4 linked regions of the Homo sapiens genome follow. The protein of the gene in region 2 interacts with the protein of the main gene of each other region in a pairwise test. Each region holds a gene or a part of one and is shown on either strand. Other genes may lie near its edges. The genes, in order: VIM, FAM163A, KIF1B and PECAM1.

Evidence for each region.
Region 1: the proteins of FAM163A (region 2) and VIM interact in binary tests that used the Homo sapiens proteins (3 or more experiments, as listed by UniProt).
Region 3: the proteins of FAM163A (region 2) and KIF1B interact in binary tests that used the Homo sapiens proteins (3 or more experiments, as listed by UniProt).
Region 4: the proteins of FAM163A (region 2) and PECAM1 interact in binary tests that used the Homo sapiens proteins (3 or more experiments, as listed by UniProt).

Annotation. Positions count from the first base shown.
Region 1 is NC_000010.11:17,231,164-17,238,569, reverse strand, and holds the end of VIM (vimentin), read right to left. Parts: intron 4,984-7,406; coding exon 4,888-4,983; intron 4,801-4,887; coding exon 4,639-4,800; intron 3,878-4,638; coding exon 3,752-3,877; intron 3,402-3,751; coding exon 3,181-3,401; intron 2,725-3,180; coding exon 2,681-2,724; intron 2,277-2,680; coding exon 2,191-2,276; intron 1,341-2,190; coding exon 1,299-1,340; 3' UTR 977-1,298; downstream 1-976. UniProt on the Homo sapiens protein: Vimentins are class-III intermediate filaments found in various non-epithelial cells, especially mesenchymal cells. Vimentin is attached to the nucleus, endoplasmic reticulum, and mitochondria, either laterally or terminally.
Region 2 is NC_000001.11:179,808,903-179,816,455, reverse strand, and holds the end of FAM163A (protein FAM163A), read right to left. Parts: intron 7,132-7,553; exon of another isoform or gene 7,010-7,131; intron 6,775-7,009; exon of another isoform or gene 6,523-6,774; intron 4,347-6,522; 5' UTR 4,325-4,346; intron 3,681-4,324; exon of another isoform or gene 3,381-3,680; 5' UTR 3,359-3,380; coding exon 3,266-3,358; intron 2,678-3,265; coding exon 2,267-2,677; 3' UTR 258-2,266; downstream 1-257.
Region 3 is NC_000001.11:10,213,503-10,221,055, reverse strand, and holds part of KIF1B (kinesin-like protein KIF1B), read right to left. Parts: intron 1-7,553. UniProt on the Homo sapiens protein: Has a plus-end-directed microtubule motor activity and functions as a motor for transport of vesicles and organelles along microtubules.
Region 4 is NC_000017.11:64,359,356-64,366,908, forward strand, and holds part of PECAM1 (platelet endothelial cell adhesion molecule precursor), read right to left. Parts: intron 4,043-7,553; coding exon 3,794-4,042; intron 1,061-3,793; coding exon 785-1,060; intron 1-784. UniProt on the Homo sapiens protein: Cell adhesion molecule which is required for leukocyte transendothelial migration (TEM) under most inflammatory conditions.

The sequences.
Region 1 (7,406 bases), on a different chromosome or scaffold from region 2:
TTAGCACCATGCGATTCACATGTAATAATCTCATCTCCCTGGAAGAAAAGGTAGGAGGTTTTATTTTGTGCCTAATGCCATTCTCCAAACACAAAGGTCTTTACAAATATCTGTATCTATAGATAGATGGATATAGATATAGCTATCACACACACACACAATAAAGCAGAACGGTTTCATATATTAAATCTTGGTGAACTAGGCTGAGTGTGGTGGCTCATGCCTGTAATCCCAGCTTTTTAGGAGGCCGAGGGAGGATCACTTGAGCACAAGAGTTCCAGACTAGGCTGGACAACACTTCCAGACCCCATCTCTACAAAAAATTAAAAAAATTAGCCAGGTGTGTGGCTAGTTTTGGGAAGACAACTCACATTTTAGGCTAAAGTTAGACATTCGTTTATTTGTTTTGAGTACTCCTAGCTACTGAGGAGGCTGAGGTGGGAGGATTGCCTGAGCCTAGGAGTTGTTGGCTGCAGTGAACTATGATTGAGTCACTTTACTCCAGCTTGAGTGACAAAGTGAGATCCTGTCTTAAATAAAAGAAAAACTTGGTGAACTTTTTCCATTTCTCTGCATCTTGCTAGCGGAAGATAAGCCCCTATATCTTGGCAACTTCCTATGCTTTAACTCCCAAAGTGGAATTTGTGTTACTCATATGCTATATGTACTAAAAAAAGTTTTTATTTTTTAATTTTAGGAAGTCTGTTTGTTATGATTAAAATCACAGACCTGAGCTCATTTTAGAGAGACCTATCTTCATTTTGGTACAAGTTATTTTATTCGACACCACCTATTTGTAAATGTTTTTAAGTAATAATAAAAAGAAGTGAGGTCTATCAAAAATGACAAAATTAAGAACTACATCTCAAGCATAAATAACCTGAATTTATCAACTTACATGATTGTAATGACAAATTAACTAATAGGACCAAGTAGAGAATTGTTTAGATATTATCCAATAAATAACACAACAAAAGAGTTTTTCCAAAGATTTATTGAAGCAGAACCAAGTTGGTTGGATACTTGCTGGAAAAAAAAAAGCAGTTTTAATGGTATTCAAAATACCTTTTAAAAAGTATTCTAGCACAAGATTTTTCTGTAAACTAGATTATGTTGTAAACTTTTTTCTAAATCTTGTAGGAGTGTCGGTTGTTAAGAACTAGAGCTTATTCCTATTCCAAATCTATCTTGCGCTCCTGAAAAACTGCAGAAAGGCACTTGAAAGCTGTTTCTTTAAGATATGGATTTCTTTTTTATTCTTGCTGGTAATATATTGCTGCACTGAGTGTGTGCAATTTTTATTCAAGGTCATCGTGATGCTGAGAAGTTTCGTTGATAACCTGTTTAAAAAAAAAAACCAAAATAAATATAATGCCACATGCCAAAGACTAAATTATCCTATATATCACGGCAAATAAAAATCCTGCTAAATATATGTAATTTATTGTGCAAATCAGAAGGTTATGTTGCTTCTGCATGAGTGAAAACTAGAAGGGGCAGACACACAAGACCCTCTTCCACTACAGGCAATATAAGGATCCAGTGGAATGTTGTAACTTACAAAAAGAAATTTCTTAAAAAACTGTGTTTATAAAAGATGGTATAATAGTTGTACACAATACAGCCAAGTTTAAAAGCAATTAAGACATATTAAAATGTGCAGCAGGTACATTTTAAATTTATGTGCAAGGGAAGATTTCATGATGACTACAATAAATTGCAACTATTTCTTTCCTGGCATAGGGAGGTAATAAGAAACTAAATGATCGTATGGCACATGCTTGTATTATATAGATGGGTTTAGGAATCTATAAAGTATGGAGGTAGGAAGACACCATATGTCCAGGATCAAAACATTCCTCATATTGAGGTAGTCTAGTGAAGCTGTTTCATGTAGCTGCTTTAGGAAGTGGTTTAAGGAAGCTTACTCCCACTTCAAATTAAGCACCAAAGCAAATCACTAATTCTGGAGCACAGGAAGACTGCTATCTCAACTTCACATCCAGGAGCCAAATAATTAGTTGGCTGTGTGTACTGCTGGAAGAAGAAGCCTATTCTTTTTTTAGTAGGCATGAATGAAACCTGAACCTCTCAAATTAGCCAGCTGTATCTGAGATTCAGATTCACTGATTTTAAAATATATCAACTCCTGTCTGAGATTACCCTATTTTTTCCTTAAAAGATACCAACCTGTCCATCTCTAGTTTCAACCGTCTTAATCAGAAGTGTCCTTTTTGAGTGGGTATCAACCAGAGGGAGTGAATCCAGATTAGTTTCTAAATAAACAAACAGGCCAAAAATGAGTAAAAACGAGTTTTTTCTTGGAAAAACCAAGTAACCATTTTACTGAAACAATTATGATTTGTGGGGGAGAGGCAATTGTGTAAAGTACTACTCGCCAAATAATTTTAGGGTAGTCTCTGTTTGGAAACCCAGGCCCTGACACTCTTGAGCATCAGGATGAGATAGTACTTGCAGCAGGAAGAAGGAAAAAGGAGTTTGCATTTAACTTAAAGCATAGAATGCAAGAGTGTACTTGGGTTCGAAAATTATAGATGTTTTATAGAGTTTTCTCTTATATGGCATTTTTTCAGATATCCTAAAAAAAATGAATGCTTTGACATAAACACAGTGGTTACAAGCAGCTGACGTTTTTCCTAAAGGGAAATAAAATGCTTACCCCTCAGGTTCAGGGAGGAAAAGTTTGGAAGAGGCAGAGAAATCCTATAAACAGATGAAGAGAAACAGTAAAATTGTTGGCAAATAACTTCAACCACTGGGAACAAATTAACACACTTTTTGTTTTCGTCACGTAAGAAAACGTACTGTTTTAAATCATAAACTAGAGATTTGTCTCAGAAACATTTTCCCATGACTGGTCTTGTTAGTACATTTAAAATATGTTACTACAAGCATTTTCTCCACAGGAGCATGAACAGGAGTTAGGAGTGGAGGCTTTGACAGAGTTATGGGTTCAAATCCCAGCTCTGCTGTTGATTAACCCTTTTTCAGCAAGTCACTTACTCTCTCTCAATTCAAATTCCTCCTCTACAAAAAGTGGAAAGCAGTTACCTCAAAGAAACTTTCTAAAGATTAAATGTGACACTGCTTAGAGCCCAGTGGCACAGGGCCTAACAAATGGTCACCATTAGTTCACGCATCCAAGTCTGAGTTCCCTACCTGCTCTCCTCGCCTTCCAGCAGCTTCCTGTAGGTGGCAATCTCAATGTCAAGGGCCATCTTAACATTGAGCAGGTCTTGGTATTCACGAAGGTGACGAGCCATTTCCTCCTTCATATTCTGAATCTCATCCTGCAGGCGGCCAATAGTGTCTTGGTAGTTAGCAGCTTCAACGGCAAAGTTCTCTTCCATTTCACGCATCTGGCGTTCCAGGGACTCATTCTGCAGGGGGTGAGAAAGATGTCTGGTGTTATTTCTCAGAAAAACCCAGCTGTTCCCAGAACCATTTACAGACCTTCTGCAATAATTTCCATTAGCGGCAAATGGCGACCACTCTAATTTTAGGTGGAGAATGCGAGTACCAAGTCCTTCATATTAGAAGCAATGATATAGGCAAGCTAAAACCTTCAAGAGTTCCATGAAGTCCCTTTTGAGTCTGTCTTGATAACTCATTTTCTTTGCATTATGATATACATTTTTACTCACTCAACATTTTGTTCAGGTATCATCATGAGCCTAGTCAGCAGAATGGGTCATTATTTTCCCTCTTTTACTGCAGGGTTGGTACTCACGGTTCCTTTAAGGGCATCCACTTCACAGGTGAGGGACTGCACCTGTCTCCGGTACTCAGTGGACTCCTGCTTTGCCTGGCGCAGGGCGTCATTGTTCCGGTTGGCAGCCTCAGAGAGGTCAGCAAACTGTTGGGAAGAAAACAGAAATGTAGATTGCTCACATTCAAGTCTTTTGACTCTCTTAGAAAAAAAAAATCATATTTCTCACTGAATGTCTTCCAGTATAGGTTTAAATTTCTGTTTTGAAAGCCAGGGAAAGAGCAGTGGAGTACTGACATTAGTATTTTCAGAGTTCACTCTACAGTGCTCATTTCAACACAGTGGAGGTCAAAGGTATGGCATTGGGGTTTACTTGGAGGCAAGGTTAGGGGGAAGAGAGTCTGCTATTCTGAAGGAGGTGATGTGGCCAGGCGTGGTGGCGCATGCCTGTAATCCCAACATTTTGGGAGGCTGAGGAGGGTGGATCACCTGAGGTCAGGAGTTTGAGAGAAGCCTGGTCAACATGGTGAAACCCCATCTCTACTAAAAATACAAAAATTAGCCGGGCATGGTGGTGCTTGCCTGTGGTTCCAGCTCTTAGGGGGCTGAGGCAGGAGAATCACTTGAACCTGGGAGGCGGAGGTTGCAGTGTGCCAAGATGTTGCCACTGCACTCCAGCCTGGGCAGTAGAGCAAGACTCTGTCTCATAAATAAATAAGAAAATAAATAAATAAATAAAGGAGGTGATGTGAGTGGTGGGGAGGCTGTGGTGGCAAACACAATATGAGCAAGAAGTCAAAGCCAGCTTTGCATTGGAGCTAGAGGATATTTAGGAATCACACACAGGTATGGGGTTTTGAGAACACAATGCTTTTCTTTGGTTGAAGCCGCACTGATTTGTTTCCTACCTTGGATTTGTACCATTCTTCTGCCTCCTGCAGGTTCTTGGCAGCCACACTTTCATATTGCTGACGTACGTCACGCAGGGCAGCCGTGAGGTCAGGCTTGGAAACATCCACATCGATTTGGACATGCTGTTCCTGAATCTGAGCCTGCAGCTCCTGGATTTCCTGCAAAAAGAACAGACAGACGGTCAGCTCTGCCAACCGTGGGGGCTGCCTTACCCTCATTCATTCCCCGAAAGTCACTCCACTAACCTCTTCGTGGAGTTTCTTCAAAAAGGCAATCTCTTCTTGCAAAGATTCCACTTTGCGTTCAAGGTCAAGACGTGCCAGAGACGCATTGTCAACATCCTATTTTGAACAGAGAAAAGACAGGACATGGAGGATGTAAAAGTGTATGGCTTATCTCATTTATTTGTCTTAGATTAACCATCTGAACCTAGTCTCCTTACTATAGAAAAGCCGTTGACACATTTTATGACCCTGGAATAGGTTTATAAATCATTCAGTGCTATAATATGCTGTGCTTTCTCCTGCTCACTAATATATTTTAATTGTGACTGCTTGTGTTTTACTCAAGGTGGTGATCAGACAATTTTAAAATAAATAAATGTCCACACACATGGTAAACTGCACTCAATCATGACTGAATCCACATTTTACCAGTGATATTTTAAAATTACTTTTTAAGGCTGGTCATGGTGGCTTATGCCTGTAATCCCAGCACTTTGGGAGGCTGAGACGGGTGGATCACTTGAGGTCAGGAGTTCGAGACCAGCCTAGCCAACATGGCGAAACCCCGTCTCTACCAAAAATACAAAAATTAGCTGGGTGTGGTGGCACATGCCTGTAGTCCCAGCTACTTGGGAGGTTGAGGCAGGAGAATTTCTTCAACCCAGGAGGCAGAGGTTGCAGTGAGCCAACATAGTGCCACTGCACTCCAGCCTGGGCAACAGAGTGACACTCTGTCTCAAAAAATAAAGTAATTCATTTAATTTAATTACTTTTTAAATCTAGAAAATCTATGCCACAACATTTTTAAGATTTGTTTTGTAATTTCATGGAATAACATGATGATAGAGGTGGACAAATTTTCACAACTTCATGTACACTTGAGTACATGGAGAACAGAAACTTGTGCTTCAAGAGTTTTAGCTTTTCTTCTCCACTCAAATCTTTTGAAACTTATCCTTAGGCTCCAAAGCAAATATGTAGTCATCTGGCATCCATTGTACAAGGCTAGATTTATATTCAATAACCCAATTCAGGATATGCATGCCAAAGATTCAGTTCAGGAAAAAATGGAAAAGAAATGTAACTCTGAACTGTATTTGCTTGGCTTTCTCTGGTGGATTTTTCTTCTAAAACTCCTTTGACTCATCCTGTAAAGGCATGTCTTTTTCACTTGCCACTGTATCAGTTCAGTTAGCCTGTTTCAGAATGACTGGTCAAGCTTGCAAAGAATGAAACTACATAAAGGATTTTTGCTGATTCAGCCGTCCTTCTATATTTCCATTTAAAAAGCTCAGCATTCCAAATCAGAATATGTAATCTTGCAACTAAGATTTTATTTCCTCTCAAAAGGATGCGTGAGGATTGCTTATCTTGTCAGCAATTATATTTGGAGTTCATAGCCTTACGGTCTTAAACTGTTGAGACTTTTCTATCACCTTAGTGGAAAAATGAATGAAGAGTGGGTGACAAAAAGATCAGACTTGATGAAAACATTGATTTTTACTTGTTAAGCCCTGAAAAATACATAAAAGATATTTTACTAACCTCCAAAGAAAGATCAATGTGGTATTCTATCACATTGAAGAGAATGAGGAATTTTGCTTAATCTCGAAACAGAGGATCTTTTGTATTGATGTTGTTTTATGTTAACTCACTACACTGCAGAAAACATGACAGGTATGATAATCAAAAATGCTCAAGGACTAAAATGAACCACACACATTGCTGTGGTTAAATTAATTTGGTAAATGTATTTCAGTTTCAAAATGTTATACTACACTATTCATCTGAGAGTGCTTTGCAGTTAATCCCAGTAAATATTCCAGGGAATACAACTATAAACTATAATGGGGATCTTCTGGCTTTTGGATTCCAATTTTAAGTTAAAAATTCTGTAAGTCCATCTAATTTTGGTGAAAAAAAAAAAAAACACGCACAAAAACCCTTTAGTTAAAATTCAGTTTTTCAGCCTTGGGTTTATTACTGTTATTATTTTTTATGGCAAGAGTGCTAAAGAACACAAGAACCCAATCAAGAAAGGACTTTTAAAATGTGAGGTATGCTTGTAGCTTTAAAAACTTTTTACATTACCTACTTCTCAAGTCTGGGCCAGATATTAGATAACGGATGTTAGCAAATACTTGTGTCCAATTAGAACCGTGCTTACATCATTACATATTCAGTAAGAATGTAGCCTGTTGCAAAGCTTCCCTGGGAATACAAAGACTCCTATTATTTCTGTCCAGAGCCACCACATTTGCCAGAATGTCTGTATCTACATTCCATAGTGAAGCCCATAGAAACCATTAATACCCCTTAGCCAAGGGGACAGATGGCTCCTTTTCACCCTTATTAGATCACAAAATAGTTGTGCATAGTGATACTTCCATCGAACTTTAATGACACAATAGAATTTGCAAAGAAGAAAAGAAACTTGCTGGCTCCATTCCAGTTGGAAACTAAGTTTTCTTATCTTCCAACACGTTTTCCATTTTAAACTGCAGGGCATAATTGCGCTTTTTGTGGCCTTGTAAAAATTA
Region 2 (7,553 bases):
AGGGGAGCAAGGCACTAGGAAGTGGGGAACGCTGCCAGGCCCAGCAGCTCATCAGGAGCTTGCACTTGGCCCAGTTAGGGCTGGCCGTGGGACGGGCTTGTTGAAGCTGCTGCCGCCATAAGCTGCCCCTCTGCACCAGGAGACAGATCCCATTACCCCACCTACAGCTGCTTCCTGGTACAAGAGAAGAGTTACCATTTGAAATGACTCCACAGGAGAGTCTGACAAACATGTTTGCTTTTCACTGACAATTAAAATTGTTTTGCTGCTAATCTTGTTTTATTGTGGTCTTTCATCCATCAGCAAGCATCCCTGCACGCAAGATCAGAGTTGGGTAAATACATCCAGACCCTGCCAGGATTAGGGCAAGAGGGAGTGCTCTGGGCCGGCAGATCTTTTTCGGAAATTCTCACTTCTTGGAGCACTAAAGGGTTGTTAGTCTATCTGGGCAAGCCTCGTTTCCCTGGAGAAAATGGAGTCTCAGAGATTAGTGACTGGTCCTAGAGCTAATGAGTGACCAAAGTGTGACCAGAGCCCAGGTCTGCTTCTCAACCCAGGGCACTTTGATTCCAGATTGAGATGTAAGGTGACAGGTGCCTTAATAGTGGCGCAAAAGATGTGCATTCCCCTCTTCCTCCCTCCCCGCTCCCTGCTCCCCCAGCGGCACCCTGACCTTCCTCAAATGCAGAATCAAGATTTCAGCAGGGGGGCCAGCCCTTTCCCTGCCCCACCCTCCTCGAATTCAGTGACTCAGGAGTGGGAAGGGGGTTAGCTATGCCCTTAGAAGGGGGCCAGCTTCTGCAGAGGCCACTGGAAAACTCATCAGGATTCTCACTCACAAAGCCACTGCCACATTCTAAGTAGGAAGTCGGAGTTGGAAATGAGGCTGGTGTGAGACACAATAAATGGCTCATCGCCAGGAAACTGGGGAGTAGGGCGGCCAAGGGAGGGCGGCGAGCGTGGAATCCCAAGGCTAAGTCACGTCCCTCCCATCCTCAGGACTGGGCTGTTGCTCTGGTGAGATGAATGAAGATCCTGCTCCACGGCGTCACAGGTGGATGCTTACATAGAATGCCGGGCTCTGGGGGACTTGACGTGGTTTCAGCCGCTGCAGCATCGCCCCACAGAGATTCTGTGCTCTTCCTGTTCACCAGCCCGCTGTCTGCCATGGGGATTGGTCACGTGTTAACCACCTTTCGTTCAAGCTGTTTCGGGATCAGACTTTTCCTTCTCTGGTACATGGGAGACCTTTCCTCTCTGCAGCTCCTGAATGTACAAAGCCCCTGGTGCCTACCCGTGGTTACTGTGTGTGTGTGTGTGTGTGTGTGTGTGTGTGTGTGTCTGTGCGCGCGCGCGCGCGTGCGTACACCTGGGAACGGTTATGCACACCCTCACAGGACTGCATCCACACAAGCTACTCGGCGTGGTGGGCTGGGCCGAGAGACAGTCAGCTGGTCTCTTTGCTAAGCTACCAGAAGTCGGCTAACAAAATGAAAAAACTTCTCCAGCAGGGGGCGCTGGTTCCTAAGTCAGAGAAAGGATTTCGGGGAACACAAGGTTAGACACTTTCTGGTGCAGTCCCCACAAGCCACCTTAGGCTTTAAAGTCAACTTGACACGTCCCACGAGGAAGGGGGCAGGTGAGATGTGATACGTTCAGGAATCAACGACCCTACGGGAGCAGCTACAGTGACAGCAGTAGCTATGGTAACCAACGTACAAAGCTGGGCTGTGAACTAGCTGTTGGAGTCGTTTCAGCAAGCGCGTCCTGAAGCAGTGCCGTTGACGCCCCGCCCCTCGCTTCTCCAATGCTGGAATTGTAGCTCTCACTTCTCTCCTTGCCCTCTGTCCCCTTTTCCTAGGCACGGATGCTTCATCTCCCGAGGACCCGGGAGGCCTCCTGAGCCTTTGCTGAGCTTTCCCTGGTGCTCCTTTTTGCAGTCCAGCGAATCCAGGGGACTGGGGCACACTGCAAGGGGTTGTGGTGGTGCTGGGGCTGCCAGAGGAGTGTCCCAACCAAGAAACTGGCGAAGCTGCAGACTCGACCTAGCAGTCCCCCACCTCTGGCCCACAGAGTTGGAGCCAGGCCCTGTCTTGGTTCTCAATGCACTCAAAAGCTTAAATCCTAGTAAACCCTCCACTGCGGAGCGAGAAAAGCCAAAGAAACAGAAACAACCCATGTGGGGCTGTTGGAGGGTCATTCATCACCCCCATGGCCCCCGCCAGGGCAGCAGTGTGGGTGTGTGTGCGGGTCGGGGTGGAAGGATTTACACGTCTGTACTAATAGCCCTTGGATTGGTGAAGGCCTCACGCCCAGAGCCTGGCCAGGTCACCGGGTAACTCTGGGGTGCTGCCAATTTGAGGGATGGGGGTCCCCCCTCTTTGTAGTATGTGGGAGCAAAGGAGAGCCTCTCGCCTCCACCCCCATTGGGCACCATGTCAGCCGTCCGTATGTAAAAGGGGGAGCTGTATGGGGAGCAGGTAGTGCAGTGGCTCGCGGCCACCCCACAGGGCTGGCTGCAGGGCTCGCTGGTGAGAGGCGCCAGGCTGCCTCTGCCGTCCAGGGCTTGGGAGCTGCAGGCATTGCAGGTGGGGCCTCTGGGATGCGTGGGAAGGTCGTGCTCCCGCTCCTCCTCCTCGTCTGCAACCTCGGTTCCGCTCTTCTTGCAGCAGTAATACTGTGCGGAAGGGCAGAGGGATGCCTGAGAGGGTGAATGCTCCCCCCGCCCCATGCATTTTTGAGCGTGCACAGGTGCCCCTGTCCCCTGCTCCATGGAGAACCTAGTGCCAGGCACTGAACCCCAGGGGCCTGCTCCACAAGTTTCTAATCCCAGCTTTGCAAGGCCAGTACTGCTTTCCTTTTCCCCTCCCACCACTCCTCGCAGTAACTCCAGGCTGTAGTTGAGCGGGGCAGGGACACACACATCATATTGAGGACAGGGCTGGAGCTGCTGGCGGCAGCTTTCAGAGCCTCCCCAGAATGGTGCTCTTCCCATGCTCCTGAAATCTCAGAGGTGCAGGAGACACAACCCAATGACCCCGTATCTTTCCAGCACACTTTCTGTGTGCTCTGAGTGGGCAGGCTGGGGGGCACTTAGCTCCCTTCCGACCAGCCCCAACTCCCATCCTCCTTGACTTACGCCTGCTACATTCCATAGCTTTGGGCTCTGTGGGCCCTGAAGTCGGCCTCCAGTTTCTGCCCCCATAATGAAAAAGAGGTTTGCTGGTGGCCTGGCAGCCTCTGGCTACGGGTCCCGGGGACTGACCTGGAGCCTGCAGTAGCACAGGACGGCAATGATGCAGAGGAGGATCACCGTAGCTAGGATTCCGCCAGTGATCACAACCGTTCCCGCTGTCATCCGCCCGGCGCCCCATCAAACTCTGCAAAGATGTGCGGAGGGCTGAGGACCAGCTGTGGCTGCAGCCCTGGGCTGGGCCGGGGGGAGTCTTCCTGGAACTGCCCCGAGGCTGGGGCAGGGGGCCTGAGAGCAGCAGGTGCCGGGAGGGCCAGGCCCCAGGGGTTTCCTGAAGGCTGAGGACGACTGTGGCTCCAGACTGGGCCAGCCTAAGTGGGCGAAGTTGAGTACCCAGTTTCAAAAAGTTCTCACGATCTTTCCCCTTTGGTGCTCTTCTCGCCTTTCCTCTCCCGTCACACCCTTCTTAGCTCCCGCTTCTGCGTGGCTGCAGACACAGAGGAACAGCTGCCGCTGATTGCGGGGCTCCTCCCTGTGTGGCATCATGCTAAGCACCCCCACGCATCTTACTACATCCTCGCGATAACCCTTCGGGGCAGTTATTAGCTATCCCTACCGCACGCATGCTGAACGGGGCTGCGAATAATTTGGCTGCGATTCCACCCAGCCCGTTCATCCCAAAGGCTGTGCTCTTGATCCCCGCCCTCTTGGCACACACCCCAGTGGTCCCTGAGCCTTTGGCCCGGGCTGGCGGGGAAAGGGCCACATCTCGAAAACACCAGGTGGCTCTTCTCTGGCTCAAACCAGCACTTCTTTTGGGGGTATCTCTCTTCTCCTTCAAACCCTCCTGGAAAACAAAGGCAAGGCGAGCCCAGAGGGAGTGGTGTGTGGCATTCTGGGCCCTGGAAGGCTGTGGCCAAGCTGGGGAGACTGGTCCTGGCTTCTGAGGCTGAATGAACAGGACAGAGGCAAGCTCTGGGCATGAGGCTGTCATGGCTTCAGACAGATTCTCCTTTTAGGTCAGTGAATGGGGATTTCTGAGCCTCCCAGGTGCATTGGGACCAAGGGGCAGGAGGGTGGGGAATGGGAAGTTGGCATCTTGGAGATGGAAAAATGACTACGATCACTTACATTCAGTAAAGGGAACGGCGACCTGCAAGACAACAGAAAGGACAGAGATGTTGGAAGAAGAGAGTTACTCACTGAAAAAGGCCAGAAGGGTTAGATGATTCCCAGACAACCCTCATTTTGCTTTCTTCGCTGTGTGGCATATCATCAGTGAGCCCACAGACCCCAAGTCCAGGTCTCCAGCTGGGTCTCCAGCTGCTAGTAGATAGACATTTCAGTGGATGTCCCAGTGGTCATCTCAAACTCAGTTATGACAGGTTAAAGTCACCACCCTGCTCTCCAAATGGACTCCTCTCCTCCGACCTGTCTGGAGGCTCTGTTGGTGGCTCCACCAGAGCTGTCCCGAAGGGCTTTGCAAATTGTTTATTACTCAAAGGGCAAGTGGGGGCTAGAACCCAACTGCACTGTGCTCACAAAGCTATGCACCCTGGTGTGTTCACCAGGTAAAAGGGGGTGCCTTTATCTCTTTACCCAAAGATATCACATGTCCACCACTGTCCTCTTAGAGGGCTGCACCTGCCCGGCAGTGTGGCTCCAAATCCACTCCCGCTCTGTGGACCAGCAGCGTGGGCATCACCTGGGAGCACCATTAGAAAGATAGCATCTCAGGCCCCCCACAGGCCTAATGAGTCAGAGTTTGCATTTTAACAAGGTCCCAATTGAGTAGGTTGCACATTAGAGTTTGACAAGCCCATGGGACGTTCCCCTAGCTGCCCAGAATTTAAACTCCTCAAATTCTTCTTTGGCTACCCCAGTCTTCTGTCCCCCACACCAGTGAAGACTCATCACCTCTCAAGCTGCACTGGCACAATGGTTTCCTAACAAACCTTCCCAGTTTTGTCTCTGAGTACCCTTCCTGCCACCAGCTGTTAAGCCTTCCTTCATACCCCTGGGCCTTTCTGTGACTCTCATGCACCACATTGCCTGCAGGATACATTTATCTGCCCATAAACTTTTAGAGACAGCTTCAAAGACATTGCCATCCCCCACGTTCCTGCACACTTACCCTATTTATCTTTCCCTCCTCACCTCCCTTTCTTCCGCTTACGTGATCCACTGCCCCATCATGCAGTCCCACTGTTCTTTTTTTTGGAGACAGAGTCTCACTCTGTCCCTCAGTCTGGAGTGCAGTGGCACAATCTTGGCTCACTGCAACCTCTGCCTGCTGGGTTCCAGTGATTCTCGTGCCTCAGCCTCCCGAGTAGCTGGGATTATAGACGTGCAACCCCACACCGGGCTAATTTTTGTATTTTCAGTAGAAACGGGGCTTCACCATGTTGGCCAGGCTGGTCTCAAACTCCTGACCACCCACCAAGGTGGGTGATCCACCCGCCTTGGCCTCCCAAAGTGCTGGGATTACAAGTGTGAGCCATAGTCCTACAGTTCTTAAGCAGCTTATTGCCTAGTGATGAAAAGATACGGGGCAAACCTTAGGATACAGTGTGAGACTCGCAGCCACAGAATTGCAGACTAGAGTTGCGGAACCTAGAGTGGGGCAGCTACTGACTGAGGGGAGATGCTCCACTGCAGGTGTTGTATTGAGCTGAATCCTAAAAGCTGAGTGAAAGCTTATCCAGTAGACAAGGTGGGGAGGGCAGAATGAACAGTCCAGGGGTGTGAGAAAACAGTTCCAGGAACTGCGAGGGATCTGGCGAGGCTGGGACAGGCCAGGGCAGGCATGCAGCTGCAGAGGCTGCAACCCGGTCAAGGAATCCAGATGAACTCTCTTGGAGACCCTGGGGGTTTCCTGACGGGGCTTTTGACAGGGGAGCGTGTGGCCTTTCTTTTTCCATCTGTTTAAATCCTGCCCATCCTTCAAGGTTCTGAGAAGCCTCCCCTGACTGCCCCAGCCCTGAAGCTCTCTCACTTCTGGGCTCCTATTGCAATGCCCTTCATGGTTTGCTCTTCAAATCCCGCTTGGTGGGATGAGAGTCAACTTTTCATGTGGGAACATCTTGACTCCTCCACTATATTATAAGTCCTCTGGGATCAAGGGTTGTGTCTTACACGGTCTCCTATCCCCTGCAGCCTTATACACCATGCCTGACACATACCGGGTACTTAATAAAAGCTCACTGTTTAGCTTGTCACAGCCCTGGCAGTTATGACTCTGACAGACCACCAGGGGGCAGCAAGCTGTACCTCTCAGCTCAATCCCATCTGCAGACTTGAGCGTCACTGTTCGAGACCACTTTGATTTTGCCCAGGTGCATGGCGGGCCATGCTTCAGGGGTTTCTTGGGGCATCTGGAGGCGGGGTCAGATGAATCTCAGCGTGGGGAAGGCTTAGGCACTTTCACTACAGCACCACTTCATCCCCTCACCACTTCCCTGCATATTCGTCGCTGAGGGCTGCTTATGGACAGAGAGGTCTAGGAGTGACCTGAAGCTGGGGAGGCAGCAGTGATCCACCCCACAGACAGGCTTGGACTAGTGTTCCAGGATGTGCCAAGCCTATTTTAGGAGACAGGGAATTATGGAGAAGCTGTATAAGAACAGTGCCCTCCCTCCTCCCTGCCCCTGTGCTGGACCACCCCTCTTTCAGGACCACGCAGGCTGTGCACGGCAATGGCCTGGACATCGGGGGCATGGCAGTGTGGGCAGAGCTGGGGTTCTCAAGGCCCAGGTTCGAGGATCACCTGTGCCACTGAGCAGCTACCCCATATTGGAAAATGACCTTCTTTCTCACTTGTAAAGCAAAGATGAACAAAACGCTCAGCTCTCACATTCCTCTCACGTCTCCCTTGCCAGTAGGATTGCGAGGAATCGTAACCAAGGCTTGCCTCTCTTCCTCTGAATTCTCAAGTGTGACTGTGAGGAAAGAGGGGGATGGGTGTGAGAGCTCTTTGTGAACTAGAAAAGACCCCACAAACATGGTTTTGGGGGGCCTCGACATGTTGTGGCTGTTTAGGTCTGGCCTTAAAATCATAAGCCAGGAAGGGACATGTACAGGGTATGAGATGAACTAATCAGCTCTCAACCAGTTTCCCTGAAGCCCCAGTACTAATGGAAAAAAAAAATTTTTTTTTGAGACAGGGTCTTGCTCTGTCACCCAGGATGGAGTGTAGTGCTGCAATCTCGGCTCACTGCAGCCTCAACTTCCAGGGCCCAAGCGATCCTCCCACCTCAGCCTCCCAAGTAGCTGGGACCAAAGGCATGTGCTACCACGGCTGGCTAATTTCTGTACTAATGGTACAGTTTAGCATTTAAATTCCCACATTCAGTGGCTCTCT
Region 3 (7,553 bases), about 170 Mb from region 2:
ATACACGAGTAGTCTCCTGACATATCAGATTTTTAATCTCCAATATGGCTAAACAGGCTCAGTCATGCTCCCCAAATGTTTTAACTACTATCTGGCTAGGCACAGTGGCACATGCCTGTAATCCCAGCACTCTGGGAGGCCAAGGTGGGTGGATCACTTGAGGTCAGGAGTTCAAGACCAGCCTGGCCAGCATGGTGAAACTCCGTCTCTATTAAAAGCACAAAAATCAGCTGGGCTTGGCGGCAGGCACCTGTAATCCCAGCTACTCAGGAAGCTGAGGCAGGAGAATAGCTTGAACCTGGGAGGCGGAGGTTGCAGTGAGCCAAGATGATACCATTGCGCTACAGCCTGGGCGACATGAGCAAAACTCTGTCTCAAAAAAGAAAAGAAACAAAGAAAAGGGGTCTCACTTTTTCACCGCCCAGGTTGGAGTGAGTGGTGTGATTGAAGCTCATGGCAGCCTCAAAACTCCTTGGCTGTACCTCAGCCTCAGGAGTAGCTGGGTACTATAGGCATGCATCACTGCCCTGTTTATTTTTTATTTTATTTTGTAAAGGTATTTGAAGAACATTTCTTCCTTTTACTTAAAGAAGCTGTTGAAAACATTTAGTACATATCTATCTATCTATCTATCTATCTATCTATCTATCTATCTATCATCTATCTATCTATCTATCTATCTATTGAAACAGGGTCTCACTCTGTTGCCCAGGCTGGAGTACAGTGGAACAATCACAGTTCACTGCAGCCTCAATCTCCCAGGCTCAAGCAATCCTCCTCCCTCAGCCTCTGGAGTTATTGGGACTACAGGCACATGCCACCACACCTACCTAATTTTTTTTTTTTTTTTTGAGACGGAGTTTCGCTTTTGTTGCCCAGGCTGGAGTGCAATGGCTCGCGATCTCGGCTCACCGTAACCTCCACCTCCCGGGTTCAAGTGATTCTCCTACTTCAGCCTCCCGAGTAGCTGGGATTACAGGCATGTGCCACCACACCCAACTAATTTTGTATTTTTAGTAGAGACGGAGTTTCTCCATGTTGGTCAGGCTGGTCTCGAACTCTTGACCTCAGGTGATCCGCCTGCCTCAGCCTCCCAAAGTGCTGGGATTACAAGCATGAACCACCGCGCCCATCCACTAAATTTATCTTTAATAGAGATGAGATCCTGCTTCACTGCCCAGGCTGATACCGAACTATTGGGCGCAAGCAATCCTCTCACCTAGGCCTCCCAAAGTGCTGGGATTACAGGTGTGAGCCACTGTCCCCAGCCCTAGTAAGTCTTTATTTTTTATTTTTTTGAGGTGAGTTTCACTCTTGTTGCCCAGGCTGGAGTGCAATGGCACGATCTCAGCTTACAACAACCTCTGCCTCCTGAGTTCAAGTGATTCTCCTGCCTCAGCCTCCCGAGTAGCTGGGATTACAGGCATGCACCACCACACTCAGCTGATTTTTTTGTATTTTTAGTAGAGATGGGGTTCTCCATGTTGGTCAGGCTAGTCTCAAACTCCCGACCTCAGGTGATCCGCCTGCCTCGGCCTCCCGAAGTGCTGGGATTACAGGCGTGAGCCATAAGGCCTGGCCTATTTTTTACTTTTAAGATGGAGTTTTGCTCTTGTTGCCCAAGCTGGAGTGCAATGGCATGATCTCGGCTCACTGCAACCTCCGCCTCCCAGGTTCAAGTGATTCTCTTGCCTCAGTCTCCCAAGTAGCTGGGATTACAGGCATGCACCACCATGCCCGGCTAAATTTGTATTTTTAGTAGAGATGGGGTTTCTCCATGTTGGTTAGGCTGGTCTCAAACTCCCAACCTCAGTGATGCACCAGCCTCGGCCTCCCAAAGTGCTGGGATTACAGGCATGAGCCACCGCGCCCGGCCGTACGTATCTTTATATCAGGATGTTTATAACAATTTTCTCTTAGAACATCTTTAGAATTTAATACTAGGAAAAAAGGTTTCTCTCGACAAACTATTAGGCTTTCTTTTACCAGAGTGAAAATTGTACAATTTATCTTTCCCTTTTTGCATTAAATTCCATGTTTCCAAATTAAATTACAATAACCACATTAGCCGAGGCAACCTATACATTTAGTTTTTCTTGTTACATAAATTTTTACTTATTTATATTTTAATAGCTTCACTGTATATATTTGTGGTAAGCTGCTCAAATCCTTTCTAGAAGTAGTAACTGGTATAAATTATAAATAAATAAAAACTTCCTGTAATAGCCTATTCTGCTATTTAACACTGTAAATATGTTGTGTAGTCAAAGTTCTAGTTCCTAAAAACAAATAAAACCAAACGACACAGCAAGCTTTTAAAAGTTACATAAAGATCGGCTGGGCATCGTGGCTCACGCGTATAATCCCAACACTTTGGGAGGCCAAGGCGGGTGGATCACTTGAGGTCAGGAGTTCAAGACCAGCCTGGCCAACATGATGAAACGCTGTCTCTACTAAAAATACAAAAATTAGCTGGGTGTGATGGCACATGACTGTAATCCCAGCTACTCGGGAGGCTGAGGCAGGAGAATCACTTGAACCCGGGAGATGAAGGTTGCAGTGAGCCAAGGTCACACCACTGCACTCTAGCCTGGATGACAGAGCGAGACTCTGTCTCAAAAAAAAAAAAAGTTGCACAAAGATTTATGTTGAATGAATTTAATAGCCATGTGAGTAGCCAGAAAAACAGCAGTTTCAGAAGACTGAAACCAGCCCACAAACAGAAGTAGCCAAAAGTTCAAGGAAGAAAAAAACAAAATGAGTAACATACTTAGTACTGCAAAAGTGTGAAGTGTGCCTCCTGGTTTCAGCAATAAAGGCTGGAAACCACAGCAAGGGCAGTATCCATGAAGTGGGGGGCAGGAGGGGACACTGAAGCCAGCCTGTAGTGGGTTGGCACGGAAGTGGGAAATGCCAGTATCCATGACACTGTCAGAGCCTGGCTATGATGAGCAGGAGAGAGCAAATAGGAATGAAGGATTTTATTGGAAGGAACAGAAACGAAGGAGGGATTTTCCTCCCCCCAGCCCTTTATTTGTAATAGGAAAGACTTGCACATTTCTATACTTTATTCAATAGCTATTTACTGGGTGCCTACAATGCAACAGGCAGTTCCTGGGAAAAATAATCCGTGAACAAAAAAGATAAACAAACCTCCTTGTCATGGAGGAATTTACATTCTAGTAGGGAGAGGGAGGACATTAAAATTAATAAATCAGGTATAGAGAATCGAGAATGTAATCAGCATCACGGGGGAGTACAGCAAAGTCAGGGGGTTCAAGATTGTGGTGGTGGGAAGGATTGCTGTGCAGGTGCATAAATGAGGTCAGGGTGGGCCTGCTGATGTGCTGAGATTTAAGCAAAGACTTGAAAGAGGTAAAGGAGTTAGCCAAGCAGATTTCAGGGGAAAAGTATTCCAGGCAGAAGAAAGAGTAAGAGCAGCTGGGTGCGGTGGCTCACGCCTGTAACCTCAGCACTCTGGGAGGCTGAGGCAGGTGGATCACCTGAGGCCAGAAGTTCAAGACCAGCCTGGCCAACATGGTGAAACACCGTCTCTACTAAAAATACAAAATTAGCTGGGCTTGGTGGTGGGTGCCTATAATCCCAGCTGCTCAGGTGGCCGAGGCAGGAGAATTGCTTGAACCCAGGAGATTGTGCCTCTGCACCCCAGCCTGGGAGACACAGCAAGGCTGTCTCAAAAAAAAAAAAAAAAGAAAAAGAAAGAGTAAGAGCAAGTGCCCTATGGTAGGACTATGCCTGGTGTGTTCAAGAACAGTAGAAAAGGCTGGGCACAATGGGTCACGCCCGTAATCCCAACATTTTGGAAGGCAGAGGCGGGCGGATCACCTGAGGTCAGGAGTTTGAGACCAGCCTGGCCAACACGGTGAAACCCCATCTCTACTAAAAATACAAAAATTAGCTGGGCGTGGTGGCACACGTTTGTAATCCCAGCTACTTGGGAGGCTGAGGCAGGAGAATCACTTGAATCCGGGAGGCAGAGGTTGTAGTGAGCCAAGATCAGGCCACTGCACTCCAGTCTTGGTGACAGAACAAGACTCTGTCTCAAAAAAAAAAAAAAAAAAAAAAAAAAAAAAAAAAGAAAATGGGCAAGTACTGCAGGGAAAAGAAGAGTAACCAATACTGCGAGTTCCTACAGATTAGAACAGTGCTATCCCTAACAGAGGCCAAGACAGAGTAACCTCTTTCTCACACTGGGGGAAAGAACAGAAGAAAGAGGGCAGAGAAGTTTGTAAGTAGAGGAAGGGAAAGCTCAGGGAGTTCATGCCCTTTTTTCCTATGAGGTGGCAGGCAAGGTATTCTGCCAAGCATGGGGCAGTGACAGGTTTGAGTCAAGGGGTCCAGATTTTATAATAGCAACTGTGGAGAAATGGGGAGGGAGCTAAGCAGAACTGCTCCGACAGGGACCAAAGACAGATTTAAGGGAGACCTCGGACTACACATTAATTGTGGCACTAATCCCCAGCACTATGCAGGTTTCTCCATGACACGGAGTAAGAATGGAGGGTATGGATGGTAGGGATGATGTGAGGCTGGCTTCTGCATAGTAAGTCCTGAAGAATAATAAGAAAGAATAAAAACTGCAAGCAATGCAACCCAGAGGTCGTAGTATAGAAAAGGAAGGAAAAGAAGTAAAATCTGGAAGAGGCCGACGGTTTAGGAGACTTAGAGTGGGAGAACACACATAAAGTGATTATGAAAGTGAAAGCTATCAATTATCACAGTTTAAGACTTGAAGGTGAATTTGAGACCTTAACATGATGACAAGTTAAAAATGTGGCCATAACACTAAACAACTGGAACAGAATGAAGCCAATGTTTGCTTGAGCTCAATTCAAGAAATTTCACAGTTAACGGTAGTTACAAAGGAAACTCAGCATAGTGGTTACTTACTAGTACTTATGATTTTGGGGAAGTCACTTGGCCTGTTTTAGTTTCATCTGTAAAATGGGAATAACAGTATTTATTTCATATGGCTGCTATTAGGGTTAAATTAGTTAATAAACGTAAAGTGCTTAGAAAAAAGCCTGGCACACAGAAAGTGCTCAATATGAATAAGCTATTTTATCACTATTGTTGTTTCTGTTATTGTTTATTTACATAGTCATTGACATCTGCCAAGATGATGTCAAAAATCTGGATGAAAGAGAGAACTAAGCCAACAATATAGTAATCCAAAAGAGCAATGGGGCTGGGCACAGGGGCTCATGCCTTTAATCCTCCCACTTTGGAAGACTGAGGTGGATCACTTGAGCTCAGGAGTTCAAGACCAGGCTGGGCAATAGGCAATATAGTGAGACCTCCATCTCTACAAAAATTTAAAAATTAGCTGGGCATGGTAGCGCATGCCTGTGATCCCAGCTACTCAGGAGACTGAGATAGGAGGACCACTTGAGCCCAGGAGGTCAAGGCTGCAGTGAGCCATGACTGCGCCACTGCACTCCAGCCTGGGCAATAGAGTAAGAGCCTGTCTCAAGGGGAAAAAAACGGGCAATGGTAGAGGGTAGTATGGTTGAATGATATGCTTTGGTATAAACAATGTGATATTAAATACAAAAAATAGGCCGGGCACAGTGGCTCATGCCTGTAATCCCAGCACTTTGGGAGGCCAAGGTGGGTGGATCACCTGAGGTCGGGAGTTCGAGACCAGCCTGACCAACATGGAGAAACCCCTACTTTACTAAAAATACAAAATTAGCTGGGCGTGGTGGCACAGGCCTGTAATCCCAGCTACTAGGGAGGCTGAGGCAGGAGAACCGCTTGAACCTGGGAGGTGGAGGTTACGGTGAGCCGAGATCGCGCCGTTGCACTCCAGCCTGGGCAACAAGAGTGAAACTCCGTCTCAAAAAAAAAAAAAAAAAAAAATATATATATATATATATATATATATATATATATAAAATATATAAATTTTTAAATCCATCAAACATTTACAAGCTTGTGACTTCAAACACTATACAAAAAACCACAAGACAAATGTAAAAGTACCAATTGAGTATTAGATAATAAGTACAGTATTATGTACATACAACATTACAAAGAATTTTGAAAATGCTCTGACTGGAAATCACGGAAACCATATCAGGATACTAAATTGTACTAAAATGAAAAGGAGTTGGAGTTAACTTTATCTCACCATTTCTATATAGAAATGGTAGCCCAGGTGCAGTAGCTCATGCCTGTAATCCCAACACTTTGGGAGGCTGAGGTGGGTGGATCACAAGGTCAGGAGTTCGAGATCAGCCTGGCCAATACGGTGAAACCCCGTCTCTACTAAAAATACAAAAATTAGCTGGGCATGGTGGTGTGCACCTGTAGTCCCAGCTGCTCGGGAGGCTGAGGCAGGAGAATCACTTGAACCCAGGAGGTGGAGGTTGCAGTGAGCCAAGATCACACCACTACACTCCAGCCTGAGTGACAGAGTAAGACTCCATCCCAAAAAAAAAAAAGGGCAGGGCACGGTGGCTCATGCCTGTAATCCCAGCACTTTGGGAGGCCAAGGCAGGCGGATCAGAAGGTCAGGAGTTCGAGACCTGCCTGGCCAACATGGTGAAACCCCATCTCTACTAAAAATACAAAAATTAGCTGGGCATGGTGGCAGGTGCCTGTAATCCCAGCTACTTGGGAGGCTGAGGCAGGAGAATCATTTGAACCCGGGAGGCGGAGGTTGCAGTGAGCTGAGATCACACCAATGCACTCCAGCCTGGGTGACAGGGCGAGACTCTGTCTTAAAAAAAAAAAAGAAAGAAAGAAAGAAAGAAGTGGTAAAGTGTGAGTTCCTGGAAGGTAAAGAACTAAATCTCTACATGCACCCTCAGTTAATGGGTAATGCCTATAGTAAAAGAGCATCAATGAATCAGTGGCCCGTTAACCAAACAGTTCAACTCTGAGAAGTCCAAGGCATCTTTTTATTTTTAGCAGGCAAAGTCTGAGCCCAGAGTGGAGTGCAATGGCGCTGTCTTAGCTCACTGTAATCTCAAACTCAAGCCATCCTCCCCACTCAGCCTCCGAAGCACTAGGACTACAAACACACACCACCCACATCCAGATTTTTTTTTTTTTGGTAGAGATGGGGGTCCTGCTATGTTGTCCAAGCTTGTCTCAAACTCTTGATGTGAAGCAATCCTCCCGCCTCAGCCTCCCAAAGCACTGGGATTACAGATGTGAGCCACTGCATCCGGCCCAAGGCACCTTTTGCAGGTTTTTCCTACCACAGTCACATCTGTTTAATTTCTCTTCTATCCTGACAAGCTGCACAAAAAAAGTTCAAGAAGTATGCATATTTATTCACACTGTTTCACAGAATCCAGATATTCACCAGTACCTGTTCAAACGAGGCCATCTTTCAAAGAGAAATACATGAAATAGACATAAAATAACTTCAGAGCATTATGAAATTATATCATGTTAGTTTACAAGACCAAAAGGATATGCTTCCTCCTGGAAAAGATCTACTATGATTAGCAGCCTGGGAAGGGGATTACAAACAGGAAGGCAGGGGGCCCATTGTCCTTTACTTTGTACCCAGGACAAGA
Region 4 (7,553 bases), on a different chromosome or scaffold from region 2:
CAATGGTATATTTCTCTTGAGTATGATGAGAATCCCAGGCAAATGTTAGTAACTGCCATGAGACCACAGCCTGTAGCTCTCACTGCTGCAGAATTCACACAAGGCAGGGTTGCCCGGCTAGGAGTCACAACAGCAGAGTCCTGATCTACAATTCTCAGAACAGTGTATCTGAAAAGGAGAAAGTGCTAAGGGAGCCCATATGCACAACTTCAGTGCTTCCTGCAGTCAGGACACTTTCATGCTTATCATATTTTAGCAGTTTGTTGAAAGGTTCTGGAAAGAGATTACATTGTCCTCATCAATAGCCCCCAAATATTTTCCAGCCTCCTTTACTGAACCTTGGCCCTGCTTTGGTGCATATCTAGTATATGGACTTTGCATAAGCACCCACTACTTCTCTCGCTTTTTTTTTTTTTAGATGGAGTTTCGCTCTTGTTGCTCAGGCTGGAGTGCAATGGCGCAACTTGGCTCAGTGCAACCTCTGCTTCCTGGGTTCAAGCAATTCTCCTGCCTCAGCCTCCCGAGTGGCTGGGATTATAGGCGCACGCCACCATGCCCAGCTAATTTTTGTATTTTTAGTAGAGATGGGGTTTCACCATGTTGGCCAGGCTGGTCTTGAACTCCTGGCCTCAATGATTCACCGGCCTTGGCCTCCTAAAGTGCTGGGATTACAGGCATGAGCCACCGCACCTGGCCCCCTACTTCTCTTATTGTTCCCACAGTCCCTGGGCGTGAAAGAATGCCCCAAGCCCACATGATTTCTTCTCACAGCACAGCAACTTACCTATCACCTTCACCCTCAGAACCTCACTTAACATTTTGGCATGGGAATGGCAATTATCTGCAACACACTGGTATTCGACGTCTTCAGTGGGGTTGTCTTTGAATACCGCAGGATCATTTGAGTTCTTGGTACTATTCTCCAAAACTTTACTTGTTTTTAAAAGTTGGTAAGAAATAGGCAAAGTTCCACTGATCGATTCGCAACGGACTTCGATGGTCTGTCCTTTTATGACCTCAAACTGGGCATCATAAGAAATCCTGGGCTGGGAGAGCATTTCTAGAACAGAGGGAGAAACAATCCAAAAGGCACTGAAGGTAAAAGCAAAGCATCCAGCACAAGAGGTTCCTCCTCCAAAGCCTGAGCTTTGCTTTCTATCCCTGCTGTAATTTCAAATGCCTGCCTGCCTTATTTACCTTTATAGGACACCTATGAGACTGACAGGCTGTGTGTGTGTGTGTGTGTGTGTGTGTGTGTGTGTGGTGAGAAGGGAAAGGGAAAGAGAAGTACAATAAGCAAAACAGAGAATGACAGAAATTCAAGGAAAACATTACATCCCCAGAAATACATGTTCATATTTTACCATATCTCACACGCACATGCACACATAATATACTTTTCTTGTGTTGAGCAAAGACACAGAAAACATAGAAAAAGTACAACAAGTAGCCAACAAAATGTGTGTGTGTGTGTGTGTGTGTGTGTGTGTATTTGAGACAGGGTCTCACTCTATTACCCAGGCTGGAGTGCACTGGTGCGATGACAGCTCACTACAACCTCCCAGAATCAAGCAATCCTCCTACCTCAGCCTCCCGAGTAGCTGGGACTATAGGTGCACACCACACCTGGCTAATTCTTTATTTTTTGTAGAGACAGGGTCTCACTATGTGCTCAGGCTGGTCTTGAACTCCTGGACTCAAGTGATCCTCCCACATCAGCTGCCCAAAGTGCTGGGATTATAAGTATGAGCCACCACACCTGGCTGAGCATATATGTGTGTGTGTGTGTGTGTGTGTGTGTGTGTTCTGAGACCGAGTCTTGCTCTGTCACCCAGGCTGGAGTGCAATGGCGCAATCTCAGCTGACCACAACCTCCACCTCCTGGGTCCAAGGGATTCTCCTGCCTCAGCCTCCCGAGTAGCTGGGATTACAGGCATGTGCCACCACACCCGGCTAACTTTTGTATTTTTAGTAGAGAGGGGGTTTCACCATGTTGGCCAGGCTGGCCTCAAACTCCTGACCTCAGGTGATCCACCCACCTTGGCCTGCCAAATTGTTGGGATTACAGGTGTGAGCCACCAGGTCCAGCCAATATATATGTTTTTAAATTATTCTCAGCCAGTCACGGTGGCTCATGCCTGTAATCCCAGCACTTTGGGAGGCCGAGGTGGGCAGATCACCTGAGGTCAGGACTTTAAGACCAGCCTGACCAATGTAGAGAAACCCCGTCTCTACTGAAAATACAAAATTAGCTGGGCAAGGTGGCACATGCCTGTAATCCTAGCTACTCGGGAGGCTGAGGCAGGAGAATCGCTTGAACCCGGGAGGCAGAGGTTGCAGTGAGCCGAGATCATGTCATTGCACTCCAGCCTGGGTAACAAGAGCAAAACTCCATCTCAAAAAAAAAAAAAAAAAAAAAAGATAAAAAAAGTCTTCTTAGTGCTTCAGCCTCTTAACAGATAAGAATTATATTAGGTCATTATTTAGGCATTAGTTTATTTAAACCTTATACAATGAGATTTCCTCCTCCCAAGAACAAAAAATAAAATAAAACGTTATAACACACATTTGTCTCTTGCATTCCTGCCTTTTGAGTTAGGTGGTTAGAGCATTAAAAATAGGCTAAAATCCTGGTTCAGTTGAAGCTATAATAAAATCTTAGCTGGATAAAACACAGCCACAGGTTAAATGAAAGGATCGTGACTGAATAATATAGTGACAGTGACAACTTGACTGGAGTTCTATAATCAACCAGAATCTCGCCACCCAAAGTGTGGTCCAGAGACCAACAGCATCCACATCACCAAAATGCTAGTTAGAGATGCAGAACCTGGCCCCATCTGGGCCTAAAATACTGAATCATAACCTGTATTTTAACCAGGTCTTGCATGCACATTCAGGCCTGAGAAGCCCAGCTCCTGGTGGTCAAATACCTACATTCTGTCCACTGGAAGTCTTACCCTTTTGGGTTAGCCAGGATACAGATTTAAAAAATGGAATTTTGATATTCTTGGCCGGGTGTGGTGGCTCAGGCCTGTAATCCCAGGACTTTGGGAGGCTGAGGCAGGCAGATCACGAGGTCAGGAGATGGAGACCATCCTGGCTAACACGGTGAAACCCCATCTCTACTAAAAATACAAAAAAATATTATCCGGGCGTGGTTGCGGGTGCCTGTAGTCCCAGCTACTTGGGAGGCTGAGGCAGGAGAATGGCGTGAACCCAGGAGGCGGAGCTTGCAGTGAGCCCAGATTGTGCCACTGCACTCCAGCCTGGGTGACAGAGCGAGACTGCATCTCAAAAAAATAAATAAATAAATAAATAAAAGTAATAAAAATAAAAATACAAAAATTAGGCAGACATGGTGGTGGGCACCTGTAATCCCAGCTACTTGGGAGGCTGAGGCAGGAGATCACTTGAACCTAGGAGGCAGAGGTTGCAGTGAGCTATCGTGCCACTGCACTCTAGCCTGGGCGACACGTCTCAAAAAAAAAAAAAAGAAAAGTTTAACATTGACTAAGTAGTGTTTCCTTCCTGAACTTTTGGGTGGGTACTTGCTCCAGGAGGCAGAATCTTGCCAGAATCTTAGCAAGTCAGAGGCCACATCATCATCAGTGAATCAGTGTTCTGAGCAGGAATACCTCCTTGTTTCTTTGGCCTTTGATTTCGCACTTCTCTCCCTCTAGTTCTTACCCTGCCTGAGTCTGCTCAGACCGGAGAGGGCGGCAGCTGCAGATAAATTTCCTTTCTCCCATTCAACCCTGGATGTCCTCTGAGTCAGCAACAATATACTCACCACATACGACTATCTGGACTGTGTTGCTTTTCTTGACCACTTTGTCAATACCTGCAGTGCAGATATACGTCCCACTGTCCGACTTTGAGGCTATCTTGGTGAAATCTTGAGTCTGTGACACAATCGTATCTTCCTTCTGGATGGTGAAGTTGGCTGGAGGTGCTCCTGGGATGGAGCAGGACAGGTTCAGTCTTTCACCTTGGTCCAGATGTGTGAAGGAAGATTCCAGTTCGGGCTTGGAAAATAGTTCTGAAAAACAGTGAGTGGGAATGGAGCGAGATGTGTCTGGCCACCACCCTAAAGACCCTTCCTGGAGAGGCCCTTGGCTCAGGTGCTCTTGGCAGAACCAACTTCCAACTTCCAGCAAAAAGTTTTCCTTTGCTTCTCATGTACCTAACGATCACCCCAGTAAGGAGCTAGGGTTCATTCTTTGCCTAGGATTCCAATGGCAGGTTTTCCTTTCTTGTTAATCCAATTTATTTCAATGACAAGGATTAGAAAAGTTTTGCAACTTGTGGCCAGGTGTGGTGGCTCATGCCTGTAATCCCAGCACTTTGGGAGGCAGAGGTGGGTGGATCACCTGAGGTCAGGAGTTGAGACCAGCCTGGGCAACATGGTGAAACCCCATCTCTACTAAAAATATAAAATTAGCCAGCATGGTGGTGGGCGCCTGTAATCCCAGATACTTGGGAGGCTGAGGCAAGAGAATCCCTTGAACCCAGGAGACAGAGATTGCAGTGAGCCGAGATTGCTCCACTGCACTCCAGCCTGGGCAACAAGAATGAAACTCCTTAAGCTAGCAGAAGGCAAGAAATAACTAAAATCAGAGCAGAACTGAAGGAAATAGAGACACAAAAAACCCTTCAAAAAATTAATGAATCCAGGAGCTGGTTTTTTGAAAGGATCAACAAAATTGATAGACCGCTAGCAAGCCTAATAAAGAAAAAAAGAGAGAAGAATCAAATACACGCAATAAAAAATGATAAAGGGGATATCATCACCGATCCCACAGAAATACAAACTACCATCAGAGAATACTACAAACACCTCTAAGCAAATAAACTAGAAAATCTAGGAGAAATGGATAAATTCCTCAACACACACACTCTCCCAAGACTAAACCAGGAAGAAGTTGAATCTCTGAATAGACCAATAACGGGATCTGAAATTGTGGCAATAATCAATAGCTTACCAACCAAAAAGAGTCCAGGACCAGATGGATTCACAGCCGAATTCTACCAGAGGTACAAGGAGGAACTGGTACCATTCCTTCTGAAACTATTCCAGTCAATAGAAAAAGAGGGAATCCTCCCTCAGGATGATGAGGCCAGCATCATCCTGATACCAAAGCCGGGCAGAGATACAACCAAAAAAGAGAATTTTAGACCAATATCCTTGATGAACATTGATGCAAAAATCCTCAATAAAATACTGGCAAACCAAATCCAGCAGCACATCAAAAAGCTTATCCACCATGATCAAGTGGGCTTCATCCCTGGGATGCAAGGCTGGTTCAATATACACAAATCAATAAATGTAATCCAGCATATAAACAGAACCAAAGACAAAAACCACATGATTATCTCAATAGACGCAGAAAAGGCCTTTGACAAAATTCAACAACCCTTCATGATAAAAACTCTCAATAAATTAGGTATTGATGGGACGTATCTCAAAATAATAAGAGCTATCTATGACAAACCCACAGCCAATATCATACTGAATGGGCAAAAACTGGAAGCATTCCCTTTGAAAACTGGCACAAGACAGGGATGCCTTCTCTCACCACTCCTATTCAACATAGTGTTGGAAGTTCTGGCCAGGGCAATTAGGCAGGAGAAGGAAATAAAGGGTATTCAATTAGGAAAAGAGGAAGTCAAATTGTCCCTGTTTGCAGATGACATGATTGGATATCTAGAAAACCCCATTGTCTCAGCCCAAAATCTCCTTAAGCTGATAAGCAACTTCAGCAAAGTCTCAGGATACAAAATCAATGTACAAAAATCACAAGCATTCTTATACACCAATAACAGACAAACAGAGAGCCAAATCATGAGTGAACTCCCATTCACAATTGCTTCAAAGAGAATAAAACACCTAGGAATCCAACTTACAAGGGACATGAAGGACCTCTTCAAGGAAAACTACAAACCACTGCTCAATGAAATAAAAGAGGATACAAACAAATGGAAGAACATTCCATGGTCATGGGTAGGAAGAATCAATATCGTGAAAATGGCCATACTGCCCAAGGTAATTTATAGATTCAATGCCATCCCCATCAAGCTACCAATGACTTTCTTCACAGAATTGGAAAAAACTACTTTAAAGTTCATATGGAACCAAAAAAGAGCCCGCATCACCAAGTCAATCCTAAGCCAAAAGAACAAAGCTGGAGACATCACGCAACCTGACTTCAAACTATACTACAAGGCTACAGTAACCAAAACAGCATGGTACTGGTACCAAAACAGAGATATAGATCAATGGAACGGAACAGAGCCCTCAGGAATAACGCCGCATATCAACAACTATCTGATCTTTGACAAACCTGAGAAAAACAAGCAATGGGGAAAGGATTCCCTATTTAATAAATGGTGCTGGGAAAACTGGCTAGCCACATGTAGAAAGCTGAAACTGGATCCCTTCCTTACACCTTATACAAAAATTAATTCAAGATGGATTAAAGACTTAAACATTAGACCTAAAACCATAAAAACCCTAGAAGAAAACCTAGGCATTACCATTCAGGACATAGGCATGGGCAAGGACTTCATGTCTAAAACACCAAAAGCAATGGCAACAAAAGCCAAAATTGACAAATGGGCTCTAATTAAACTAAAGAGTTTCTGCACAGCAAAAGAAACTACCATCAGAGTGAACAGGCAACCTACAAAATGGGAGAAAATTTTTGCAACCTACTCATCTGACAAAGGGCTAATATCCAGAATCTACAATGAACTCAAACAAATTTACAAGAAAAAAACAAACAACCCCATCAAAAAGTGGGCGAAGGACATGAACAGACACTTCTCAAAAGAAGACATTTATACAGCCAAAAAACACATGAAAAAATGCTCACCATCACTGGCCATCAGAGAAATGCAAATCAAAACCGCTATGAGATACCATCTCACACCAGTTAGAATGGCGATCATTAAAAAGTCAGGAAACAACAGGTGCTGGAGAGGATGTGGAGAAACAGGAACACTTTTACACTGTTGGTGGGACTGTAAACTAGTTCAACCATTGTGGAAGTCAGTGTGGCGATTCCTCAGGGATCTAGAACTAGAAATACCATTTGACCCAGCCATCCCATTACTGGGTATATACCCAAAGGACTATAAATCATGCTGCTATAAAGACACATGCACACGTATGTTTATTGTGGCACTATTCACAATAGCAAAGACTTGGAACCAATCCAAATGTCCAACAATGATAGACCAGATTAAGAAAATGTGGCACATATACACCATGGAATACTATGCAGCCATAAAAAACGATGAGTTCATGTCCTTTGTAGGGACATGGATGAAATTGGAAATCATCATTCTCAGTAAACTATAGCAAGGACAAAAAACCAAACACCGCATCTTCTCACTCATAGGTGGGAATTGAACAATGAGAACACATGGACACAGGAAGGGGAACATCACACTCTGGGGACTGTAGTGGGGTGGGGGGAGGGGGGAGGGATAGCATTAGGAGATATACCTAATGCTAAATGACGAGTTAATGGGTGCGGTACACCAGCATG